Linked DNA regions of Homo sapiens. The protein of the gene in region 4 interacts with the protein of the main gene of each other region in a biochemical or structural test. Each region holds a gene or a part of one and is shown on either strand. Other genes may lie near its edges.

Evidence for each region.
Region 1: of the proteins of MAP3K1 (region 4) and SPART, one has a biochemical effect on the other in vitro, tested with the Homo sapiens proteins (one large-scale study listed by BioGRID).
Region 2: of the proteins of MAP3K1 (region 4) and RNF114, one has a biochemical effect on the other in vitro, tested with the Homo sapiens proteins (one large-scale study listed by BioGRID).
Region 3: the proteins of MAP3K1 (region 4) and GSK3B form a complex in vitro, tested with the Homo sapiens proteins (one study listed by BioGRID).
Region 5: of the proteins of MAP3K1 (region 4) and STAM, one has a biochemical effect on the other in vitro, tested with the Homo sapiens proteins (one large-scale study listed by BioGRID).
Region 6: of the proteins of MAP3K1 (region 4) and RAD51AP1, one has a biochemical effect on the other in vitro, tested with the Homo sapiens proteins (one large-scale study listed by BioGRID).
Region 7: of the proteins of MAP3K1 (region 4) and APPL1, one has a biochemical effect on the other in vitro, tested with the Homo sapiens proteins (one large-scale study listed by BioGRID).

The regions. Positions count from the first base shown.
Region 1 is NC_000013.11:36,308,395-36,311,894, forward strand, and holds part of SPART (spartin), read right to left. Parts: intron 1-3,500. UniProt on the Homo sapiens protein: Lipophagy receptor that plays an important role in lipid droplet (LD) turnover in motor neurons.
Region 2 is NC_000020.11:49,949,897-49,953,396, reverse strand, and holds part of RNF114 (E3 ubiquitin-protein ligase RNF114), read right to left. Parts: intron 1,322-3,500; coding exon 1,256-1,321; 3' UTR 1-1,255. UniProt on the Homo sapiens protein: E3 ubiquitin-protein ligase that promotes the ubiquitination of various substrates. In turn, participates in the regulation of many biological processes including cell cycle, apoptosis, osteoclastogenesis as well as innate or adaptive immunity.
Region 3 is NC_000003.12:119,912,948-119,916,447, forward strand, and holds part of GSK3B (glycogen synthase kinase-3 beta), read right to left. Parts: intron 3,228-3,500; coding exon 3,097-3,227; intron 1-3,096. UniProt on the Homo sapiens protein: Constitutively active protein kinase that acts as a negative regulator in the hormonal control of glucose homeostasis, Wnt signaling and regulation of transcription factors and microtubules, by phosphorylating and inactivating glycogen synthase (GYS1 or GYS2), EIF2B, CTNNB1/beta-catenin, APC, AXIN1, DPYSL2/CRMP2, JUN, NFATC1/NFATC, MAPT/TAU and MACF1.
Region 4 is NC_000005.10:56,888,549-56,892,048, forward strand, and holds part of MAP3K1 (mitogen-activated protein kinase kinase kinase 1), read left to right. Parts: intron 1-3,500. UniProt on the Homo sapiens protein: Component of a protein kinase signal transduction cascade. Activates the ERK and JNK kinase pathways by phosphorylation of MAP2K1 and MAP2K4. May phosphorylate the MAPK8/JNK1 kinase.
Region 5 is NC_000010.11:17,706,651-17,710,150, forward strand, and holds part of STAM (signal transducing adapter molecule 1), read left to right. Parts: intron 1-2,125; coding exon 2,126-2,301; intron 2,302-3,500. UniProt on the Homo sapiens protein: Involved in intracellular signal transduction mediated by cytokines and growth factors. Upon IL-2 and GM-CSL stimulation, it plays a role in signaling leading to DNA synthesis and MYC induction. May also play a role in T-cell development.
Region 6 is NC_000012.12:4,545,390-4,548,889, reverse strand, and holds part of RAD51AP1 (RAD51-associated protein 1), read right to left. Parts: intron 3,109-3,500; coding exon of another isoform or gene 3,058-3,108; intron 2,582-3,057; coding exon 2,472-2,581; intron 799-2,471; coding exon 712-798; intron 204-711; coding exon 54-203; intron 1-53. UniProt on the Homo sapiens protein: Structure-specific DNA-binding protein involved in DNA repair by promoting RAD51-mediated homologous recombination.
Region 7 is NC_000003.12:57,265,729-57,269,228, reverse strand, and holds part of APPL1 (DCC-interacting protein 13-alpha), read right to left. Parts: intron 1,488-3,500; coding exon 1,437-1,487; intron 888-1,436; exon of another isoform or gene 832-887; coding exon 742-831; exon of another isoform or gene 1-741. UniProt on the Homo sapiens protein: Multifunctional adapter protein that binds to various membrane receptors, nuclear factors and signaling proteins to regulate many processes, such as cell proliferation, immune response, endosomal trafficking and cell metabolism.

The DNA.
Region 1 (3,500 bases), on a different chromosome or scaffold from region 4:
CTACTTAACTAAATTCTCACTTACCTGGTTTTTATTTAAATTCCATGAATCTTTGGAAGAAAGGATAAAAAGAATAGCAATAATACAATAGAAATAAATGAGCTGAGAATCACTGTTAAAAATATGCTATTTATCATATTAAGTTCTCATTAAGGACCAGAAGTACAAAATCTACATTAAAATCCAGTATTTCCTAGTTATGTGAATCCCAAACTTTTAATAAGCTAATTGTAGTTAGGTAAGTTTTTTTTTTTTTTTTTCATTAGAGTAGGCCATAAAACCCAACAAAGCACTTCCTATTTTCTAATATGATAATCTAAAAATAATTCACTTTTGGCCTGAAAGGCATTTCTGAATTTCTCCTGTTCTTGCTACAAATAAAGAACTATTTTTCTAATTATGACTGATCCAAAGTAACCTCAGGGTCATAAAACAATGAATGAATATTAGAGTTCAGGCCACAGGTGACAAGAAGTGAGTTGGAAGACTTGAGTTTCATATTTCTATCAGAAGAATTTGAGATCTATTGTATGTTTTATCTCTCAACTCTTGGTAAAACTGATACTCTGGCCAGGTGTGGTGGCTCACGCCTGTAATCCCAGAACTTTGGGAGGCCGAGGTGGGCAGATCACGAAATCAGGTGATCAAGACCATCCTGGCTAACACAGTGAAACCCTGTCTGTACTGAACATACAAAAAATTAGCCGGTCATGGTGGCGGACACCTGTAGTCCCAGCTACTAGGGAGGCTGAGGCAGGAGAATGGTGTGAACCTGGGAGGCGGAGGTTGCAGTGAGCCAAGATTGCGCCACTGCACTCCAGCCTGGGTGACAGAGTGAAACTCCGTCTCAAAAAAAAAAAAAAAACTGACACTCCAAAATGATATGCCACATTGCTTTGATTTGATTCAAAGGTATGTATGTCCCAGAATGTAAACTAGTTCAGCCACTTTTGGGAGATATCTCAAAAAACTTAAAATGGAATTACCATTTGATACCCAAAAGAAAATAAACTGTTCTATCAAAAAGACACATGCACTCACTCACATGTTCACTGCACTATTCATAACAGCAAAGACATGGGATCAACCTAGGTACCCATCAACAGTGGACTGCACAAAGAAAACATGCTAATATATACACCATGGAATACTACACAGCCCTAAAAAAATGAAATCATATCCTTTGCAGCAACATGGATGCAGCTGGAGGCCATTATTCTAAGCGAATTAATGCAGGAACAGAAAACCACATGTTCTCACTTATAAATGGGAAATAAACACTGGATACTCATGGACATAAAGATGACAACAATAGACACTGGGGATTACTAGGCCGGGGAGGGAGGAGGGGAGTGTGAGCTAAAAGACCATCTATTGGGTACTATGCTTACTACCTGAGTGATGGGATCATTTGTACCCCAAACCTCAGCATCACACAACAAATTCTATGTAACAAGCCTGCACATGTACCCTTTAATCTATAATAATAGTTGAAATTATAAAAAAAGTAAAAATAAAGCAATTCCTACTTCCTATCTTAAAACAAACAAACAAATGTATTCATGCCCCAGACGGAGCAGATCGAACCAATTAAGGATGGAAATTAAATTAGCACTGTAGAGCACAGGTTCTGATGACAGAAACACTTGGTTTATATCCCAGCTCTACTATTCACTAGGAGAGTAATCTTTAACAAGGTATTTAACTTTACATTTCGGTTTCCTCATCTGCAAAATGGAGATAACAGTGTTGAAAATTAATTAATACGTAGGAAAAGCAATGATCACAGTGCCTAATACAAAAGTATGAACTCAACTAAATGCTGTCAATAAGTGGATAATTAACATAAATAACCACGAGTTGTGAATACTATCAATATTGCTCTTCTTTTTTCTTTCTAAATAAATAGTAAGATCCAAACTAATTCAAGGCTAAGAAAGCAACTCAGGTCCTTCATACTAGATTTATTTTTTAGACCTTGATTCTTCTAGTATTGTATAAAGAAAGTAGAGTCAGGTAGAAAGAATAAGGAGCTAAAAGCAGAAGACCCTGCTTTACTCTCACCTTCAATACCACTTGTATAAATTTGTTATATAGTTGTTGCTTCAGCATTTATTTTTAGGCCTGACATAAGTTGCTTGAAACCTAGTTGTATCCCACCACCTTTGGCCTAGTTAAAACTTCTCTCTCCCCCATGCGGTTGTCTGCAATACAGTATACTTGTTTCTCATCTCACTGACTCAAAACCCAACACACCCCCACAGCTGCTGACCACGAGAAAATCCAATGGTCAACACTAGAGTCATGTAAAACTAGAGCCATGTAAATGTTCCCCTGTTCACACTTGTTTTCTTTAAACTAGTCAATCCACAGGCCCCACTGGAAAGCCAAAGGAAGAACACCCATAGACTTTCGTGAAGGCAGTCACACAAATCACCTCTCCCTTGCTCGTGCTCCCTTGTTCACCCACCCTCGCCCCACCCACTGGTTGAGCACTCTGCTATCTCCAGACTTCCTGTTGGCCCTCATGCATACCGCTCTTCTCTCAAGGGTCTGTGAGTAATAAAAAGTTTCTGTTATTTCGTGTGTTTGGTTGTGCTGCCTTCTCTGTGTGTCACCTGACCAACACACCCAAACCTTGCTCTCCTCCTAGTCAGGGTCTCCTAGAGAGTAGCTATCTTAGTAGGAATAAACTGGACACAGGTCAGAAAAGAGCCACAAGGGCATCTGCCATAAACAAGTTCCCTGAGAGAGGGACACCTGGTCATGGGTGTGCCAGGATAAAGAAGTATCCTGTGAAACGCACACTGAAAACATTCACGAGATTTTTTCCTCTTGAGCCACAACACAGCAGGATTAGAATTTATAGCCACTCTCCAGAGACAGACCTTAAGGCCAAATAAGAAAGCAATCATAACACTAATCAGGTGAGTTTGTGCAAATCATTCATTTCTGTTTGTCCATTTCTTAATATATGAAATTGAAGATATACCATCTACCCATTCCAATACAAATGTACAGTGGTAATCAGAGTCAAGTAAGATGTGACATAATTTTTAACAGTCTGTATACCGAGTGGGCTAATATTAACATGGGGTATAAGAGTTTAATTATAATTCAAGTTTTTTCAGGCAGATATCACCCATCAAAAACATGTAGTCAGTTAATAAGGTATACAGAAATTCCAGGCTTTTAAAAAAAATAACCTTATTCTTCACAGTAATGATGAACAAATGTTTATAATGATTAGTAACATAAAGCAAAGTGACAAGAATTCTGTTATTATACTAGAAATACTATTCTTCTCCCTATTTAAGAAAAGCAGTGAGTGAAAAAAATTATTTTATCAGATACTTAATAAAAATATCTTGACCGTCATGGGTTTTTACAAATGCTACAAGAGATTTAGTCCGCCAGGCATGGTGGCTTACGCCTGTAATCCCAGCACTTTGGGAGGCTGAGGCAGGCAGATCACCTGAGGTCAGGAGTTCGAGACCAGC
Region 2 (3,500 bases), on a different chromosome or scaffold from region 4:
GGTTCTGCTCCTACAGATTAGGCTGACAGCTCTTGGACTTATATTTATTAATATTTGTGAAATATGAACTCCAAGGTTCTTGAGCTGTTCCTAAAGCAAGTTTCCAGCAACAGCTTTTATTAACAACTGTTCATCTTGCGATGTGCTGTGCCTTATGAACGATGTCTCGTCAGAACAGACCAGGGGTGGTACTGGGTTTCCTATAGCTTCTCTCTGCATCTACAAAGCAGGTTTTCAAACACATTTTACATGTCGAAACCAGTGTCATAAGGAAAACATTTGTGACAGAAAAACAATGCTCAGTTTAATCTAAGTTACCAAGCAGAAGGTAAAAGAACTAGTATCCGCTGAGTCCCCAAACCTCTTTCTTCTAATTCATCTGAGGATTTTTTGTGCTTCTAGAACAAGAATGTAGGCAGGCTCCCAAATGGAGAGGTAAACATGACCGCGTTGTTTGAAACTACTTCATTAATTTGTAAATCAGAACCAAAAAGCTCTGGCCCTCCCACTTCTCTTAGCTGACCCTCCTCCCCACTTACGGATAAACAGACTTTAACTTCCCTAACCCAGAAACACTTCCACCAAAAATGTATGGTTATACCTTATCCTAAAAAGGCACCATGCAGGCATTTAAGACTGAACCAGTGAACTCTAAATATGTAGTAGTAGAAAATATCACTAATCAAAACTTCCAGCATCAGATGGTACAAAACCCCAAGAGGACTGGTGACATGTACCCCGGGATGGCAACCCCAGCTTCTGGCAACCCCACAGCCCAGCGGGAGCTTCAGCTCTGGTCAGGTGCACGGCTGCCAAAGTCTGCACACCTTGGGGACAAGGAAAGGAGACACTTGCTTCATTGTGCTATTCATGACCCAGAAAAGGTCCTGGCTGGCTTGAAGGACCCGAGAGACAAACACTGGATGGGAGGAATGAGTGTGAAACAAGAGGTGGAGAAGCTAGATTATCTTCCACAGGAGGCGGCAGAAGCTCCAGGAAGTAGCCGAGAACCAATACGAACTCGACCGTGTGACAAACAAGGTTAACAGTAGGGGAAGACAGCTTTGGCAAGAGCCCAAAGGGAAGAGAAGGGCTGACCTGGGGACCCACTTCCCCTGTCAGAAGTGACCCTGTCCCAATGCCATGGCTCATTTTCAGGTCTGTTGAACAGGTAAGGTACAGGAGTCATAGATTTCACGTTTAATATGTAATGGAAGCTCTGTAACATGAGACAGATAGCAAGCACGGACTCTGCTCACTGGTCGATGATGGAGCGCTGCAACACCTGATTCATCATGTCCTCTTCATCAACATCATAATCCTAAGGGCAAAAAGAGACATGCAGCCTCAGCAACTGTTTCTAGATGCAAAGACTGGCTTTCAGTAGAAGCAGGACAGCCTAGCAACTGGATCCGGAGCAGGTTGCCAGGGACCGGATCCCCAGTGCAACTGTTTGTGATGCTAGGTATGTAACTTTGGGAAAATTAATCTGTCTCTGCTGCCTTCTCTTTTTTTTTATTTGATGGAGTCTCGCTCTGTTGCCAGGCTGGAGTGCAGTGGCACAGTCTTGGCTCACTGCAACCTCTGCCTCCCAGGTTCAAGTGATTCTCCTGCCTCAGCCTCCCGAGTAGCTGGGACTAACAGGCGTGCGCCACCATGCCCAGCTAATTTTTATGTTTTTAGTAGAGACAGGGTTTCACCATGTTGGCCAGGATGGTCTCAATCTCTTGACCTCGTGATCCACCCGCCTTGGCCTCCCAAAGTGCTGAGATTACAGGCATGAGCCACTGCACCCAGTCTGCTGCCTGATTCTTAAATGAAGTTAAGGATGCCTCCCTTAAATGGAGATTGAGAAACCCAGACAGCACACGAATGGAGGCTGGCACAGACCAAGTGCTCAGAACATTTGTAAGTCTGTCGGAACAGAGCACGCAGATGCACTGAGCTGAAGAGTTGTTTCTGAGAGGTGGAATCAGTGCACAGTACAGAATCAGATTTTTAGAGCCATACAATACAGCAGAAACTATAGCGCAACTAGCCCTCTTTAATGAGTCATTTTTAGGACTCATTTTTAATGAGTCATTTTTGTTAATGTGACACAGATGAATGTAATTCATCTGTGTCACATTAACAAAAAGGGCAGTTATTCTGAAGTCTGAGTTTCAGACACTGTCAGACTGAGAAAAAATATTCTTTATGACAATTTAGCAGAGAGCTTTCTTTCTTAGATACTGAAATTCAGCCATCAAGACCGAATACCACTCTAAAATCCTAACTTGACATCTATATATGTAAGTAAGAGGTTTACTTGATATAGTTGGCCAAAGTTACCTACTACTATAATGGCAAGACAACAGTGTGCCCCTTTGAAACCATCCAGCTCTAGGGAAAGAATATAAACCTGACAGCCGTATTTGGCTAGTGGATATATGCTATTTGACCTGAAGTATTTTTGAAGATAATTAAAACCTGTGAAACCTCCTGTGAAATTTTCCTGTCCTGCTTGGGCATGGGGGGTGGAGAAGCTAGGCAATGCTGCGCCTGCATTTCCATAGGAAAACAAGGTGATGGCAGCATAACGAGTCAGGCACCACCTGGCTTGGAAATCCTCAGGAGGATCATTTCAATTATGGTCCCCATGGACATGCGAGATTGAGCCTCCCAAGTCCAAATTGTTGTTGTGTGTGTGTGTTTTGTTTTTTTTTTTTTTTTTTGAGACAGGGTCTCATTCTGTTGCCCAGGCTGGAGTGCAGTGGCATGATCTCAGCTTGCTGCAACCTCCGTCTCTTGGGCTCAAGAGATCCTCCTGTCCCAGCTCCCTCAAAGTAGCTAGGACTACAGGTAGGAGCCACCACACCTGGTTACTTTTTGTATTTTTTGCAGAGACAAGGTTTTCCCATGTTGCCCAGGCTGGTCTCGAACTCCTGAGCTCAAGCGATCCACCTGCCTCAGCCTCCCAAAAATGCTAGGATTGTAGGTATGAACCACTGCACCGCACCTGTCCCCAAACCAAGTTCTATAACAGGCAGAAATTATATAAACCACAAGAAAAGTAGACAAAAATTTGGTGGCAGGGCTAGGAGATGGAAAGAGCAAGTATCACTGTCTCTGTCTCAAAGACTGACCAGATCATCTTCTTGTTTGTTTTGAGACAGTCTTGCTCTGTTGCCCAGGCTGGAGTGCAGTGGCACGATATTGGCTCACTGCAACCTTGCCTCCCAGGTTCAAGCGATTCTCCTGCCTCAGCCTCCCAAGTAGCTAGGATTACAGGTGCCCACCACCACACCTGGCTAATTTTTTTGTATTTTTAGTAAAGACGGGATTTCACTATGTTGGCTAGGCTGGTCTCGAACCCCCGACCTCAGGATCCGCCCACCTCGGCCTCCCAAAGTGCTGGGATTACAGGTGTGAGCCACTGCGCCCAGCCCAGATCATCTTCTTAAATGTCACTCTGGGCCGGGCGTGGTGGCTCACGCCTGTAATCCCAACACTTTGGGAGG
Region 3 (3,500 bases), on a different chromosome or scaffold from region 4:
GTAAACTGTAACTATCTCTAATAAAAGAAATTTACAATTTTATCACCTTGCTCTGCAAAAAAGAATAGCAATTTTTAAAGAAAGCGTTTGTCACCTAAGAAGGCACCAAAAGCAAAAAAGGATAAGTGTTGAATTTCTTCTGATCCTCTGTTCCCCAAATTCCACCTCTAAAATACAAAGAAGCAAGGGCAGAAAAGAGGTACCTCCCCCACCAAAAAGCATGACAATGGATTCTAAGAATGAATACTCCTCACCCAATGTATTTCTTTAAAAAGGGTGAGAAACTGGCCACTGTCTTGCATTTTGACTTCTGACTCACGGCGAATATTTCAAGGCTTATAGACTCAATCTATTTTTCCATATCTTGGTCAATTTATTAACCACATAAACATTTATTACCCAATAAATTATAAACAGGCCCTTCAACTTCAGGGCAGAAATGATTCACTGCCTATAAATTCTAACTCTGCTATAGTAAGTATAATTGCATGTTTTCTTATTCCAATTTTCCTACTAAAATACTTCATTGCATGTATTTTAAATATGAAGTATAATAAATTACAATTAATTTCTTTTGAGATGTCGCCCAAGATAATCCAAAGACAGAATAAAATAAACTGCTGTAGAAGCCAGCCATTCTGACATACATTAATAATAAAGATAAATAAAGGGACAAAATGCAACAAAATCAAAACAGTAAAACAGTAAGTGCCAAAAAAAAAAAGTAAAGGTACTGGAAAACCAGGGTAAAGACAGATGAAAGTAGTCACAAGGATTTCAATGACTGGGATTTCTTTTCTTCCATTTATTTCTAGTCAATGATGACTCTAACCTTAACTTCTTTTTCCTTCATCACTAGTTTTGAAGTTTGTTTTTTAACCCTCTCCCCAAGTACTGACATACAATAACCATTTCATAAATTAATAAATACTAATCCCTGTTTTTAGGCTGCATGAAAATTATGACATTTAGTTTTCAGCATAATTGATAGGAGACTGTTATATCTTCTAAAGGATGCTTTTTAATTAACAAGATAGATGCTAATTATGTTCAGAAAATTCATTACGAGACAAAACGTTAATACCCAAGCTTTGTAGCCTGAAGTTTTTTCACTACCTGATGGAGCTACAAAAACGGAGCAGCCTCTCTTACAGAGGAGACTGGTTTTAACTACTTCCCAATATTGTGATCACATCTAGCTTTTTGTTCCTAAATAGCCCAACTAGTTCTTTAGCTACTTTTTGGCCCCTTTTCATCTAGTAAAAAAATAAGAAGAAAGTAATAGTATTTTGTTCAAATTACCAATCTGATAATGTACAGTCCAAAGTGTTTCCCAAACTCCATCTGACCAAACCAATTTTGTTAAAAACAAAAAAATCAGAGGGTTTATAAAAATGAGCTATCAAACAAGCGAAATCCCTCTTCCAAATTTATCAGAATAAAGCTATTTTATGTCCCAAGAGAATGGGCTGTACCAAGTGTTTTGACACTATATGAGAACAGAAGCTCTTCTAACCTTGGTGTCTCAGTCTGTCCCTACCAAGTCAGTCACTCTCAATGGTGAAGACACCCCATTAACAATAAAACATATCTGATTTGGGCAGTTTTTCCTATAGACAAGTAGTAGTGCTTTGTTTCAAACACCAGGTAAGAGTTTTACTATCTTTCACCCTTTTTAAAAATAGTTCAGGGAACAGAGTCATGGCCTGCAAAGTGATAGGTCATCTGAAATTAGAAAACAGTAAAATGAGGACAGTCTGAAAGAGGACACATTGTGAGACTAAGAAAAATTAACTCATGACAGAACAGATTTACTTATTTTTTAAAGGATCTGTCTCAAGAGAAGCCTGTGGAAAACATATCCTATGTTAAACCCCAAATTTAAACTGTGAATTGATGTAAAAGTATTACAAAGGGATAGGAACACAGGTATTAACAAGTGTGGGGCAATATGTTATCTATAGAGCTATGGTGAAAAGAATCTGTAACAAGGGTGAAAAAATTAAATTGGAGAGAATCCAAATTATGTAAAGATGTCTTAGGGACCATGAGGAGAGAGATTAGGTGATTACACCAGTGAGGAAGTAGCGGGGTAACTGCCTGAGTTACATGGGAATGTAGGCTTGACTACATGTTAAAAGGTTAGATCAGAGAGGCACAAAGTACTGAAAACTGAAAATGGAAAGAATAAAGTTGTATTACAAATTCACAGTATATTACCAAGAAATGAGCTTTTAAAAGCAGAAAGTTTGATGAAATTTGCAGGAAAAAGGGTGGAATAAAAGGTTAAATTATAGAGGAAAATGAAGAAAACACTGCATTGTTTTTTATCTCATCCCTGAATTGAGGTTAATTGTGAAGTTAAAAAGATACACAGGAATGTATAATAATCAATATTTTGAAAAAATTTAGTTCTTACTGAAAAAGGAGTATATATACCTAATGTAAATTCAAACAATACTAAAATACAATCAATGAAAAAGTGAGTTTCCCAACTACATTATATTCCCAAAGATCCTTTCTCAGGCAATCAAATATTATGGATTACGTACCATTTCAGAAATAAGCCACACATGTACTTGTGTATATATGTGTGTGTGTACATATATATATATATAGTCACATTCTGTATGTTTTTAAAACATAAAAGGTGGCATACAATACATATACTCTTGATCTTGCTTTCTTCATTTAATGTTTCCTAGACATCATTCCCTTTCAGTTCACAGAGAGTTGCCTCATTCTTTTTCATGGTTGCATGTATTACTCTGCATGTACCGTAATTTATTTAGCCATTTTCCTACTAATGGATGCTTATAAACAATGCTATAATAAAAATCCCTATATATACACTGTATTGTAAATATGTATTCCTAAGGAAATAATTCCTAAAAGTTAAACTGTTAAATGAAGGAGTATATACATTTATAATTTTGACAGAAACTAACAAAACTACTCTCACAGCTGCACTAGTTTATACTTCTTGAATAAGAATTACTGTGTTTAGGCTGATATTGCAAAAGGAATATATTTAAAAGAAGATAGTAGGGGGAGGAGGGGAAAAGGGAAGGGGCAGGGAGAGGGACAGTAGCTTACCTTCCAAAGTCACAGAGTTTTAATACAGCAGTATCAGGATCCAACAAGAGGTTCTGCGGTTTAATATCCCGATGGCAGATTCCAAAGGAATGGATATAGGCTAAACTTCGGAACAGCTGATACATATACAACTGGAATAGATAGTAGAAATTAATTAAATACTTCCTATTCTAAACAAATCAGAATCCTTAAGCAGTCAATAAAGTAACAGATTCTCAGAAAAGAACAGGTGAAATGCTATGGATTACTGGCACTCAATCTTCCTTTCACAAGTTTTGTGTCACTTCTGTATTAATTAGCTATTTCTATATGAATTAGCTAAACTGTCATTAACCATATGTACTATTCGCTTCATTCTTTAATAACTCAAAAGAAGAAAATTTTACAATGTGCTTTATAACTTT
Region 4 (3,500 bases):
AAAAACCATACTTTGAATTTTGATTTTTGTCTGAGCTAGCAATATGTGCTATGATACACTGGTGATGCTAGGCAGTGGCAGCGAGTCACAGCTCCCAGTCAGCCACACAATCACGAGAGTGAACAACCAATACTCTATAGTGGACTGTGTTGTCAGATGATTTTGCGGAACAGTAGGCTAATGTAGGTATTATAAGCACATTCAAGGTAGGCCAGACTAAGCTATAATGTTTGGCAGGTTAGGTGTATTAACTGCATTTTCAACTTAAAAAAATATCATCAACTTAAAAGGGGTTTATCACGACATAACCTCAGCGTAAGTTGAAGAGCATCTGTGTATGTGTGTATTTCCAGGAGTTGATATTGTCAATGGTGTTGTCAATGTTAGTGACATACATAGTCACTTCTTGTTATTTGAGGTAGTTATGCTCTGTTAAGTTGCTACAAATATTGAATTAGCAAATACTAAAACACTGCTTCTAGAAGAAATATGTAGTGTGTTTATATGTATATGTATGTGTGTATATATATCCATCCATCACTTTAAAAACGTGAAATTCATGCATTTTACATAATTCAAAAATCTTAAAATCTAATTTACCATTTTCTTTTGTTCGTTTGTTTTTTGTTTTTGTTTTTGAGACAGAGTCTCGCTGCAGTGCCCAGGCTGGAGTGCAGTGGCACGATCTCAGCTCACTATAGCCTCCGCTTCCCAGGTTCAGGCAGTTCTCCTGCCTCAGCCTCCCAGGTAGCTGAGACTACAGGCACGCGCCACCATGCCCAGCTAATTTTTGTATTTTTAGTAGAGATGGAGTTTCACCATATTGGCCAGGCTGGTCTCGAACTCCTGACCTCAAGCCCACCTCAGCCTCCCAAAGTACTGGGATTACAGGCGTGAGCCACCACTCCTGGCCTAATTTACTATTTTGTATATTTTAAAAATTCACACCCAAGTCAGTTCAGTCCTGTCTGCCTTTCCTACTTTTTTATAACTCACAAATCCATTCTCTCCTTTTCCACCATAGAATAAGTAATGGTTGATATTCTTAGCTTTTCAGTAGATGTGATGGTTGAAATCATGGGCTTTGGAGTCACACTGACCTAGTTTTAAACCCTGGCTCTACCCCTTAATGGCCATGTAATCATAGGAAAATTATTTTTTGTGTCTACCCTCCATTTTCTCACATGTAAAATTGGTGCAAGAACCCCATGAAGCATGTACTTCGTGGGATTACTATGAAGATAAACAAAATTATACCTAGGCCTTAGTCAAGCACTCAGCCCACACAGTCAGCTCCACCTGCCATAACCTCCTCCAGTGCTCCCCACACTTATTATATAACCTCCTCAGTCACCTCTCTGACAATACCTGTTTTGTATTATCACCTCATTTCCTCTATTCTTTCAGACGTCCCATGTCCGTTCTCTACGTGGTTCAAATTCTTATTCTCTTTAAGGCCCCCATTTTGTGCTTCTCCTGCTTGGGCACCCCCTTTTTACTCATTCCAGATTCTCATAGCATTTTAGTACATACTTGTTTCTGACACTTTGTTTCTTGTTTGCTAGTTATGTTCCTATCTTGCTGCCTCTTTCAAACTAATTCTCCTTGAGGTCCATTCATGTCTGATTCATTTTCTTCTTCCCAGAGTCTTATACAGAAGTTGCTCAATAAATACTCATGGCTAGGATCAATTTGAAAGTTTGATGTTATTTTAAGAGTTTTGATGAGACCCTGGAAACAATTGTAAATAATTTTCAAATTGGCACAGTTCATATTTTAACAGATTTCATTGCATTCTCCTTCCTAGGTAGAGTTTAAAGAGAATTGTACTGTAACATTTTCAGTTTCCTTAATTTGGAGTAAATACTTTGAGGTTTTTGGAAGCACCCCAAAGCTTTCTCAAACACTTCCATACCCTGTTTATGGTAGTATAAATTGCCATAGCACGTTTTTTTAGAGAGTGATTTGGCAATATCTGCCAGAATTTTTAATGCACTTATTCTTTGACTCAGCTATGCCCATTGTTAGGAATTTACTCAAGATTACCTCTAGAAGTACCAAGTGCCAAGTTCAGGATTATTCACTCTACTCAAGAAAGTAATTAAATTATCCACACTATACAGAAATTAAACGAGTATGAAGCTGTTGGTGTTGATTTACAAAGTGCTACAAGATACATTAATAAGTGAAAAGAGCAAGGTATATAAAGTGATCCTGGCCAAGCACAGTGGCTCATGCCTGTAATCCCAGCACTTTGGGAGGCTGAGGCAAGAACAAAACTTGAACCCAGGAGTTGGAGAGCAGCCTGGGCATAGCGAGACCCCATCTCTACCAAAAAAAAAAAAAAATTAGCTGGGCATAGTGAGACGCACCTGTGCTCCAGGGTACTCAGGAGGTTGAGGTGGGAGGATCGCTTGAGCCCAGGAGGTCAAAGCTGCAGTGAGCCATGTTCATATCACTGCACTTCAGCCTGGGTGACAGTGAGAGCGAGACCCTGTCTCTAAATTAAGTTTTCTCTTTTGTAGACATTTTAGAAAATCTTAAGTCTGTGAATATATTGGCCTTTTTTCCTCCACAAAACACACACAGACACACACACACCCCCCCCCCCCACACACACACACACAAATCATCAGTAAGTTACATTTGGGGAAAAGAAGGAAGAGGGACTTTTTTTGTTTTGTATTTTTCCTTTTTGTGGTGTGTAAGATGTGTATATATCAGCTGAGTATATCATGATACAGGATCACAGACCTTAGAGGATTTTTCTTTATATTACTTTGCATTTTTTAACCCAAAGCATTTATGAAATTACTGGGGTAGGGAAAAGAGAGTTTTCTTGTGATTAGGAGTGGATAGGTGAGTTTAAAGTATTCAGACTTGATATTAGCCCTTTGTCAGATGAGTAGATTGCAAAAATTTTCTCCCATTCTGTAGGTTGCCTGTTCACTCTGATGGTAGTTTCTTTTGCTCTGCAGAAGCGCTTTAGTTTAATTAGATCCCATTTGTCAATTTTGGCTTTTGTTGCCATTGCTTTTGGTGTTTTAGACATGAAGTCCTTGCCCATGCCTATGTCCTGAATGGTATTGCCTAGGTTTTCTTCTAGGGTTTTTATGGTTTTAGGTCTAACATTTAAGTCTTTAATCCATCTTGAATTTTTTTATAAGGTGTAAGGAAGGGATCCAGTTTCAGCTTTCTACATATGGCTAGCCAGTTTTCCCAGAACCATTTCTTAAATAGGGAATCATTTCCCCATTTCTTGTTTTTGTCAGGTTTGTCAAAGATCAGATGGTTGTAGATGTGTGGGATTATTTCTGAGGGCCCTATTCTGTTCCATTGGTCTATATCTCTGTTTTGGCACCAGTACCATGCTGTTTTGGTTACTGTAGCCTTGTAGTATAGTTTGAAGTCAGGTAGCATGATGCCTCCAGCTTTGTTCTTTTGGCTTAGGATTGACTTGGCAATGTGGGCTCTTTTTTGGTTCCATATGAACTTAAGTA
Region 5 (3,500 bases), on a different chromosome or scaffold from region 4:
TTCCAGGTGTGAGCCATCGCGCCCGGCCGAGGCCCATATTTTTAAAGCTTCGTATGTAATTATTTACTTAAGAACCTTAGTTCTTCATCAGGTTGTGTACACTCAATATGTATAGCCTTTTGCAGGTCAGACATATCTCAATAAAGTAGTTTCGTAAAAAACACAAAATGCTTTTAGAGCTAAGAAAACTCTCTTAAATATCTAATGAACTTCTAGTTATCCTTAAAAGGAAAACTTAAATGCAGTGAAAAAAAAATGAGGTAAAAACCTGTTTTTATTATTACAAACCAACAAAATATATTTCCATAATTTAAAAACTGCTTTAATCTGGAATTTTCCCTGCTTTACATGAGAATGCATGCAATGCAGTGTAGAGCCGTTTGCTTTCTTTTCACCCCAAGCAACTATTTCAAGGACCCCCTTTTCACAAACTCATCACGGTGAGGTGAGGTTATAGGGAATAACTAGCCAGATACTGGCCGGGTGCGGTGGCTCATACCTGTAATCCCAGCACGTTGGGAGGCCGAGGCGGGTGGATCACGAGGTCAGGAGATGGAGACCATCCTGGCTAACATGGTGAAACCCTGTCTCTGCTCAAAATACAAAAAATTTAGCCTGGCGTGGTGGTGGGTGCCTATAGTCCCAGCTACTTGGGAGGCTGAGGCAGGAGAATGGCATGAACCCGGGAGGCGGAGGTTGCAGTGAGCCGAGATCGTGCCATTGCACTCCAGCCTGGGCGACAGAGCAAGACTCCACCTCAAAAAATAATAATAATAATAATAATAAATAAAAACAAAACTAGCCAGATACTCCATTTTTTCCATGTAAAGTGGGCACGGACTGTGTTCAGATTAACGTTTAGCAGAATGAGGGGCCAGCACCCTGTAGATGAACAGCTAGGCCCAAGAAACTTGGGGCTAGAGGGCACCTGCTTTAGAGTCTTGATCACCAGTTTGAGACAAGGAAGCAAAAAACCTTCATGTTCAATTTTCGAAGAATGACAAAATAAAGTTAGGAGGACTGGTATAGCTGTGTTTATAATGAAGACCCTTTGGATCCCTGTGTGGGTCTGTCGTTTAACAGAAGTGCTAAATGGAAGGATCTAATGAATACTGCAGAAAATTAGGACATTATGTGTTTTAGACTTTGGGTAGTTAAGACTTCAATCTCTTTAGATTAAAAAAATGCATTTTGAAATACAGAAGTAGACAAATCCAGCCTGTTGCCTGTTTTTTTTTTTTTTAATAAACTTTTTTTTGAGACGGAGTCTTGCTTTGTCGCCCAGGCTGGAGTGCAGTGGCGCGATCTCAGCTCGCTGCCAGCTCCGCCTCCTGGGTTCAGGCCATTCTCCTGCCTCAGCCTCCCGAGTAGCTGGGACTGCAGGCGCCCGCCACCACGCCTGGCTAATTTTTTGTATTTTTAGTAGAGACGGGGTTTCACTGTGTTAGCCAGGATGGTCTCGATCTCCTGACCTCGTGATCTGCCTGCCTCGGCCTCCCAAAGTGCTGGGATTACAGGCATGAGCCACCATGCCTGGCGGCTTTAAATAAACTTTTATCAGAACACAGCCACTCTGATTTACTGACAGAGCCGAGTAGTTGTGTCAGAGACTACATGGTCCACAAAACTTAAAATATTTACGTCAGGCCCTTTACAAAAAAGTTTGCTGACCCCTGCTTTAGAAAGTTAGCTTGCTCTATTGTTCAATAAACTGCAGTTTAGGAAATGTGACTTGTATCCATTGCAGTCTATGGCTACAAAACAATGAGTTCAAATACACTTTCTAAATATCCTTTGGGATTCCTTAAAAAATACCAACATGCAGAATATTAAAATATATTTAATGTAAAGGGAGATTAGTATAAAGTTTCAGGATAAGTTTCTTTAATGCTTCAGTATGGAGATAACATGAGTTTAGCATATGTTTAACTAAAAATGAAAACCATCAACAGCCTATTTCATTGAAAAGCGTTTTTCAAAATGCCCGTTGACAGAAATAACTTTGAAAAAAGGATTCCAGAGTGGTGATTTTTCTTGTTTTTGTAACTGAATACCTCTACAGAGAAAGTTCAGTATGCTTATTAAAATTTTAGAATTGAATATGATTTCTCTTTAACCATCGCAGGTGTATGCAGGGCCTCCTCCAAGTGGTGCCTACCTGGTTGCAGGGAACGCGCAGATGAGCCACCTCCAGAGCTACAGTCTTCCCCCGGAGCAGCTGTCTTCTCTCAGCCAGGCAGTGGTCCCACCATCCGCAAACCCAGCCCTTCCTAGTCAGCAGACTCAGGCCGCTTACCCAAAGTAATTTTACTGTTGATTCTTGTTTGGAGTTAGTGCTGTTACAGCTGTTTAAGTGCCCCCAGTTATCTATAACTATAAAATCTGGCTAATAAATATCTGTGGTCAGCGTCATGCGGCCGCCCCATTTGTGCTAATGAGTGGTGGAGCCTCTGTGGTATTCCAGTACCAGCCAGCAAGCTGGTCCTCTGCTCCCGACTCGCTCAACTCATGTAATCTGGTTTCAGCCTTATATTTTTAATACTACTCTAACCATAAGTTTTTATTGTTGTTTTTATTTGCATCTATGATATTTGATAATGTCTTTAATGAAATTTATGTTTAGTGACTATAATTTGTCATTTTTCCACACATTTTGTATAAAATCTAAATTCCGTTATTTTAAAATATATAGTTCTGAGCTGTCTCTTTAAGACAAATATTTTCTTATTTTTGCCCTGTTTTGGAATTTAGTTTATATTATATCAAGGTACCCCATTTGAAACAAGAAGATAATAAGAAGGTAAGCACCCTTGTTTCTCAGGAGGCAGATGGCTGAATATGTGATGACAGAGGCCCATTTACTTTGCCATTTACTTACAGTGCTGTCTGTCATGTAGTTAAATGATTATTGTGTGTTTTTTCTGCTTTAATGGGACTCTGAGCTGAAATCTTTTCCTTGAAGCAAATAAAGGATAGGCTTTTAAGAGTTTACCAACGTGTATTCTAGAAGTTACGACATTCTAGCTGGCAACAGAAGTTTCTAGGTAGCACAGGCACAACTTCTAGAAACCTTTCCAGCAGTGTTAGGATTGCCCAGGAATGCTCCTGCACTGCCCTCTCTTGCACTACTCATCCTCAAAGAGTTACGTGTTAGAGATGCTTGGGGATTTTCAAGCATTATTCGGTTGTCAGATCTAGTATCCCGAAGTGACCTTAAGGGGGATGATGGCAAGGCCCACATGTCAGAAAACAGGGCATTCCCTAGTGGGTTCTGTATCTTAGAAAAAAGTGTTAAGTGTAGCTTGCACTCTTGCAGGATTTTTTTTTAAGTTGAAATCTGGTGGAAATGAATACCCTTCTGGAAAATAAACAGCTGTTCTTAGAGTAGCATGTTGCTTTACAACTAGATACAAAGGGGCTAGAAGGTAGGAATTGTTGAGAAGACACTAGGGTTCCTGACTTAATAGGACCCTGCAGCTATTTTAGTATTAGCCGGAACT
Region 6 (3,500 bases), on a different chromosome or scaffold from region 4:
ACTTTTTTGACTGAATTCCCATAGAATTAATTTCGAAGTAGAATAAAACCTACCAGGTGCAAAGTCTGGTTCAGTGTCATTAGCACTATCACCATCACTGCCTTCCAGAAGAATCTTCCTCTGCTGTGCTGCAGCTTTAGATGCTGCTTTTCTTTTCCCTTGAACACCACCAACATCATCTTCCACAGTAATCTTATCCAAATCTTCAGGAGAGGCATAAAAATCAATGGAAAACTTTCTGTGACAACTGATATTTCAAGAACTGCAGACCAGACTCTATTACAGCTATTGTTTTTATTTGCCCAGGTTCATCCCTCCCATGCTTCCAGTAATAGACTATTAGCCCAATCTGGGTCAACCATGGTACATCAGTGCCCTGGGAACACCTCTAGTTTTAGGGATAAATCCAAGACCCAAACAGAGATAATCTTTCCCCCAAAATTTTCAAACTAGAATTGGGAATATGCAGCCCCTTTCTTCAAAGGTCAGTTGCTCCAACTAGAAGCCACGGGTAGTTATGACCCTTCAGGGAAGAATGTGTGTCTGCAGTACGACAGAATGAGACTAAAACACAAAGAAATAAAGGCCATGACATCAAGAGAGTCTTGACAAATTTAAAGAACTTGCTTCTAGCCACAATTTCAGCAATTTAAACAAAAGTCAGAGAAACAGCATTGTTGATGAGAAAAATTATTAATATAAAAAACTTACCTAAATAATCACTGGCTACACTGCAATTAGAGATATGAGGAGACTTATTCATTGTTTCTATTTTACTACTGCCATGTTTTTCAATGCCTAAATATAAGGAATAAGAAAGAAAATTCAGATATATCTTAATCAATGTCTAGATATAGGAAAATTAGTACTAAAATGTAATAGCATTTAGATATAAATAAATGATCCCAAACTCCAACTGGCACAATAATTTTATTCAGAGAGGTTAACATATGGTTAGAAGTCTGGGCTCTGAAATCTAACATGTTTAAATTCAGGCTCTACCATGTAAACTGGCTATATGACCATGGGCAAGTTGCTTATCCTAAGACTGAATTTCCTCATCTATAATGTGGAGATAAAAATAGTGTCTTACCCAGTGGTATTACAGAAGACCAAATGTGGATCTCACATAGGAATTGCTTATTATTGTGCCTAATATACAGGAAATGGTCAATAAACTATCAATTCTGTGTAGGCAAATCCATGCTTTTACTAACGTTAAGAACTCTCCAATCGTTATAATAACCTTAAAATGACCCAAAGCATTCTAAGAGGACTTTAAGACATAATAATTGGTACTATTAAATTCCAATGCTATAAGGTGCATTATTTAATAAGAAATGGTATAATATTAATACTTCTAAGGAACTCCCCTTATACATTCTACAATGTCTTAAAAGAGAGAGATGAATTTCAGTGCCTCCATTTTAAATGTAATTCATGATAATTCTCTTTTGATGTTTCTTTGATTCTTGGTTACTAAAAGTCTTCCTAATCAAACTTTCATTTCTTTTTAAAGAGGAGGCAGCCAGATAAGGTGGCTCTCGCCTGTAATCCCAGCACTTTGGGAGGCTGAGGCAGGAGGATTGCTTGAGGCTGGGAGTTTGAGGGCAGCATGCGCAACATAGTGAGACCCCTCTCTACAAAATAAAAAATTAGCCAGGCATGGCGGCACATGCCTGTAGTCCCGGCTACTCAGGAGGCTGAGGCAGGAGGACTGCTTGAGCCTAGGAGGTCAAGGTTGTATTGAGCCATGATCATGCCACTGTATTCCTGCCTGGATGACAGAGAGAGACCCTGTCTCAAATAAATAAATAAATAAGGAGGCAGTACTGATTTAAGAAACAAAGAAAAAAGCTCCATGTATACCCCTAAATAAGATAATAAGCTAAAATATCCCCCAACATAAAAACTTTAAGCCAAAAAGCATTTTAGCAGTAGAGTATCTTTTTCAGGAATAATGATTTCTGCCTCTCTAGAATATTAATATATTGCCAGAAAAATCAAAGGAGAAAATCAACAGAGAAATCCAAAAGCCATTCTCTTAAGTCTACTGAACTTGCTAACCAAATTAATACCTTTGACCTTTGTAAGTAATAAAAATTACCATAATTAGGGTATGTTTAACTGATCTGGAAAAAATGGAGATGGATTGTTAGGACTGTACAGATCAAATCATTTGATGAAGAAATTAAATGTTCACTGTACAACAACATATAATTCGAACACTGAGGCTCACAGTCCGTGCCCTCAAGCTTATTCTGGGTGTTAAGCAGAGATGTATGTCTGTTTGTATGAGATTTAGGCAGCTGAATTAAGAACTAAATCCAATCGTATTCTCTGCAAATGGGTCTATTTATAGTGCAAAGTATTCACATTTTACCTGTTTCCTCTGTGAAGGCCCACCCAAACAAATAATCACAAAAGCATTAAGAAGGTTTTAAAGCTAAATATACAGAAAATAAAGTTACTTTTATCTTGAGAGTTCTGCACATTAGTGGTGACTGTTGGAAGTTCCTTCACTGATAAAGCTAGTGCAACTTCTAAGTCTCTCTGGTAGAGCTTGTCATCTAAAGCCATCCTAAAATAGATACACAAGTAATAATGAGTTCTTCAAAATATCAATCTCAACTAAAGAGCAAAGTTTGAGATTTCTCCAAATTACTATTCAAGAGTTGCTAACTTCGCAAAAATGTTTTTAAACAATCATCATTAATAGACCTTTGATGATAAGATAAGACTCCTAAAATGTCACAGTATCATGTTACATACAGAATAAGAGGTTTGAAATAGGAGGACCATGTGCCTCTTTGCAATGACTGTTCCCTTTCATTGTAATGTGTCACCTTACTACCAGCTGTGTCCAGGTGGGAAACACCCTACTCAACCCAAAACAGACTTGGTTCAAACATCACTTCCACTTAAAACTCTTCCTTGACCTCACCCACTCCCCTTTAGCAGATTTTATAGCTCTTACATTAAATTAAAATTATTATCATTTTTTTACATCTCTTCCTCCCAATCCAGACTTTAACAAATATTTTACCAAGCACTTACTTTGTACAAGGCACTGCACTAGCTGGAATACTAAAAGTACCTTCAGGGAGTCTGCAATTAAAGGAGGAGGGTGGGGAAACAAGACATGCTAATAATTATCCTATAAAAGGCAGACTATAAAGTCCTATTCAAGCTGCTCAAAAGTGCTATGGAGTATAAGAGGAAGAAAACGTCAAAGACAGATAAGGAAAAGTTACATAAAGGAAGAAGCACTGAGATGTACCTTAAAGAATTTATTTTTTTAGAATAACAGTTTTCTTAAGATATAATTCACATATCATAAAGTTTACCTTTTAAAGTAAACAATTCAGCAGTTTTTAGTACATTCACAGAGCTGTAAAACCACCAACACTACCTAATTTCAGAACATCTTTATTACCCCAAAAAGAAACCCCATACCCATTAGCATTCACTTCCTGTTTACCCCTCTCCCCTCCTAGCAA
Region 7 (3,500 bases), on a different chromosome or scaffold from region 4:
ACCCCCACACTCCTTTCCCTTCCCCTCTCCAGCCCTTTTCTCCATCCCTGTCCAATTCATCTTTGCTAAATCAGGTGTCACCTTCCCTCAGCCTCGCCTATCAAGAAAGCCTCACTTCAATGTCATCTTTGCCACTTCCCTCTTCTTTGTCCAGAGAGCCAGCCCACAGCCAATGCTTATTGATCTGTTCTAAGCATCCCAGCTGTCTCCTCTTTTCTATTCCTACTGTCAATCTACAACCCATAACACGCTCTTACAATTTCATGGATCATTTAATGCATTCTTCAAGTTTTGCTCTGAAATTTGTCTTTTAAAATTATTCTGTTGGATGGACAATGATTTGACACTCCTGGCAATATTAAAAATATACATTTCATTATATATTTCATATAACATATATATTTATTTATTTCCCCCCCATAGAAGGCAAAATGGCTTTCAGCAATGGCAGTTAAGTCTACACAGCCTCTCAACTGCTTTGACAGAGACAACCTCCTCTGAAATATTAAAGTTCTGGTATATTTTTGAAACAGTCATATTACATGTCAACGTAACTATAATGTAAACATCATATCAAAAAACAGATGTGACCCTTTTCTGCTATGGTATGAATCATCTGTTTATGAAGTGGCTGAACAAGCAGAAACAGCCCTTCATTTGGAAATTCAAATCTGAAAGTCATAGTGCTGAATTAAGTCTTCACAAACAACACATAAAGATCCAGACATTAGGACTGTATACCTTTTCAATCTGTTTTTGTTTATTGAGTTCTTTCTGTTGCTTCTCTTTTACTCTCTCTATTTCTTTTTGTTTTTCTGATGCCCTACGATCCTAAAGAACAGATGAATAAAACTAATGAATTAAATATGAAATAACTTTAAATTTTAGACATTTCAGTTAATATCACATGGTAACCTTTCAATATTTTTTTGCATTTATACATAAGAAAGCACATCAACAGTTTATATTCAATGGTAAACAATTATCCAAATTCTAAATGCTATGTTGGTAATAGTATCACTGTTAACCTTGCTTAGCAAAATCATTTTATTTACTTGCTAATATGAAAGAGCTAATATACTATTTTAGTTAACATTCTTGGAAAATCAAGCATCTTGGATTCCTTTTTTTTTTTTGAGATACAGTCTCGCTCTGTTGCCCAGGCTGGAGTGCAGTGGTGTGATCTCGGCTCATTGCAACCTCCGCCTCCCGGATTCAAGTCATTCTCGTGCCTCAGACCTCCTCAGTAGCTGGGATTACAGGTGCACGACACCACACCCAACTAATTTTTGTATTTTTAGTAGAAATGGGGTTTCACCATGTTGGCCAGGTTAGTCTCGAACTCCTGACCTCAAGTCATCTGCCCGCCTCGGCCTCCCAATGTGCTGCGATTACAGGTGTGAACCACTGTGCCCAGCCACATCTTGGATTCTTACCAGTTCAGCATGCAAAGCTATCTGTTTTGCCAGTCCAACAGAATCACATATCTAAAAAGAGAAAAAGTATGAAAAATTCAGGCAGTTCTCACAACAAAGCAAAAATGTCAAGTATCCAAATAACTGATGGAACTAGTTTTATAACTAATCCTAATACATTGCTTCAAGCAAAAGCATATTTAAGAATGCTCAAGCCCCCAAACCAAGGCTTTGTATGTTTTCCTTGAAGTCTACAGGATTCCACTGCTGACTCTCACCTTCATATATACCCCACTTCTTGTTATGTCAAATTCATTACTGTCACAGTAAGGCCTACGAGGAAGAAGCATGCAGCTGCTAATGCTATTCTCAGCTGAAGACATCTGAAAATGGCTGGTTTTGGTTCCCAACATAATGTTTGGTTCCCAACATAAATGAGAGGCTAAAAGATTGCACCAGCTATCAGTGGCAGGGAAAACATGGGTCTGTAGAGTCAGAAGGCCCAAACCATCAGCTTGGCTCTATTCAGAGATGCTTTGCTCAAGCAGCTCAGTAAGCCTAGGCAAAATTTGGGAGTTTTTTCCAAAAATCTTAGAATTATATAAGAATTTTATTTACACAAAAAACTACAAAACACTGATGAAAGAGACTGAAGACACAAAAGAACATCCCATGCTCATGGATCAGAATAATATAGTTAAAATAACCATATTGCCCAAAGCAATCTATAGGTTCAATGCAAATAGCCAAAGCAATCTTAAACAAAAAGAACAAAGCTGGAGGCATCACATTACCTAACTTCAAAATATATTACAAGGCTATAGTAAGCAAAACAGCAGGGGATTGTTATAAAAATAAGACACATGGCCAATGGAACAGAATAGAGAACCCAGGAACGAAGCCACTTGTTTACAGCCAACTGATCTTTAACAAAAGTGACAAAGAACTTTCACTGGGGAAGGGATATCCTCTTCAATAAATGGTTCTGGCAAGATTGGAGAGCCACATGTAGAAGAATGAAACCAGACCCCTCCCTCTCACCATACACAAAAATCAACTCAAAATACATTAAAGACTTAAACATAAGACCCAAAACTATAAAAATACTACAAGAAATTATAAGGATCAGAGCAGAAATAAATGAATCTGACATGAAGAAAACAATACAAAAGATCAACATAACAAAAAGTTGGTTTCTTTGAAAAGATAAAACTGACATTTAGCCAGACTAAGAAAAAGAAGACTCAAATAAAATTGGAGATTAAAAAGGTGACATTACAATTGATACTGCATAAATTCAAAGGATCATTCGTGGCTACTATGAGCAACTACATGCTAGTAAATTGGAAAATCAAGAAGAAATGGATAAATTCCTAGACAAATACAACCTACCAAGATTGAACCACGAAGAAATCCAAAACCTGAACAGTCCAATAACAAGTAACAAGATCCAAACCATAATAAAAAGTCTCCTGGTAAAGAAAAGCCCAGTACCTGATGGCTTTCCTGCTGAATTCTACCAAACATTTAAAGAAGAACTAATACCAATCTTACCCAAAATGTTCCAAAAAATAGAGGAGAAGGGAATACTTCCAAACTCATTCTACGAGGCCAGTATTACCTGATACCAAAACCAGACAAAGACATATCAAAAAAAGAAAACTACAGGCCAATATATCTCATGAATATTGATGCAAAAATCCTCAACAAAATACTAGCAAACCAAATTCAACAACACATTAAAAAGATCATTTATCATGACCAAGTGGGATTTATCCCAGGAATGCAAAGATAGTTCAACATATGCAAATCAATCAATATGCTACATCACATCAACAGAATAAAGGACAAAAACTATTTAATCATTTCAATTACTGCTGAAAATGCATTTGATAAAGTTCAACATCCCTTCATGATTAAAAACCCTCAAAAAAACTTGGTATAGAAGGAATATAGCTCAACATAATAAAAGCCATATATGACAGACTCACAGCTAGTATCATACTGAATGCAGAAAAACAAAAAGCCTTTCCACCTTTTAGATGGAAGATGAGTAATCAGGTAAGAGAGGAAAAAAGGCATCCA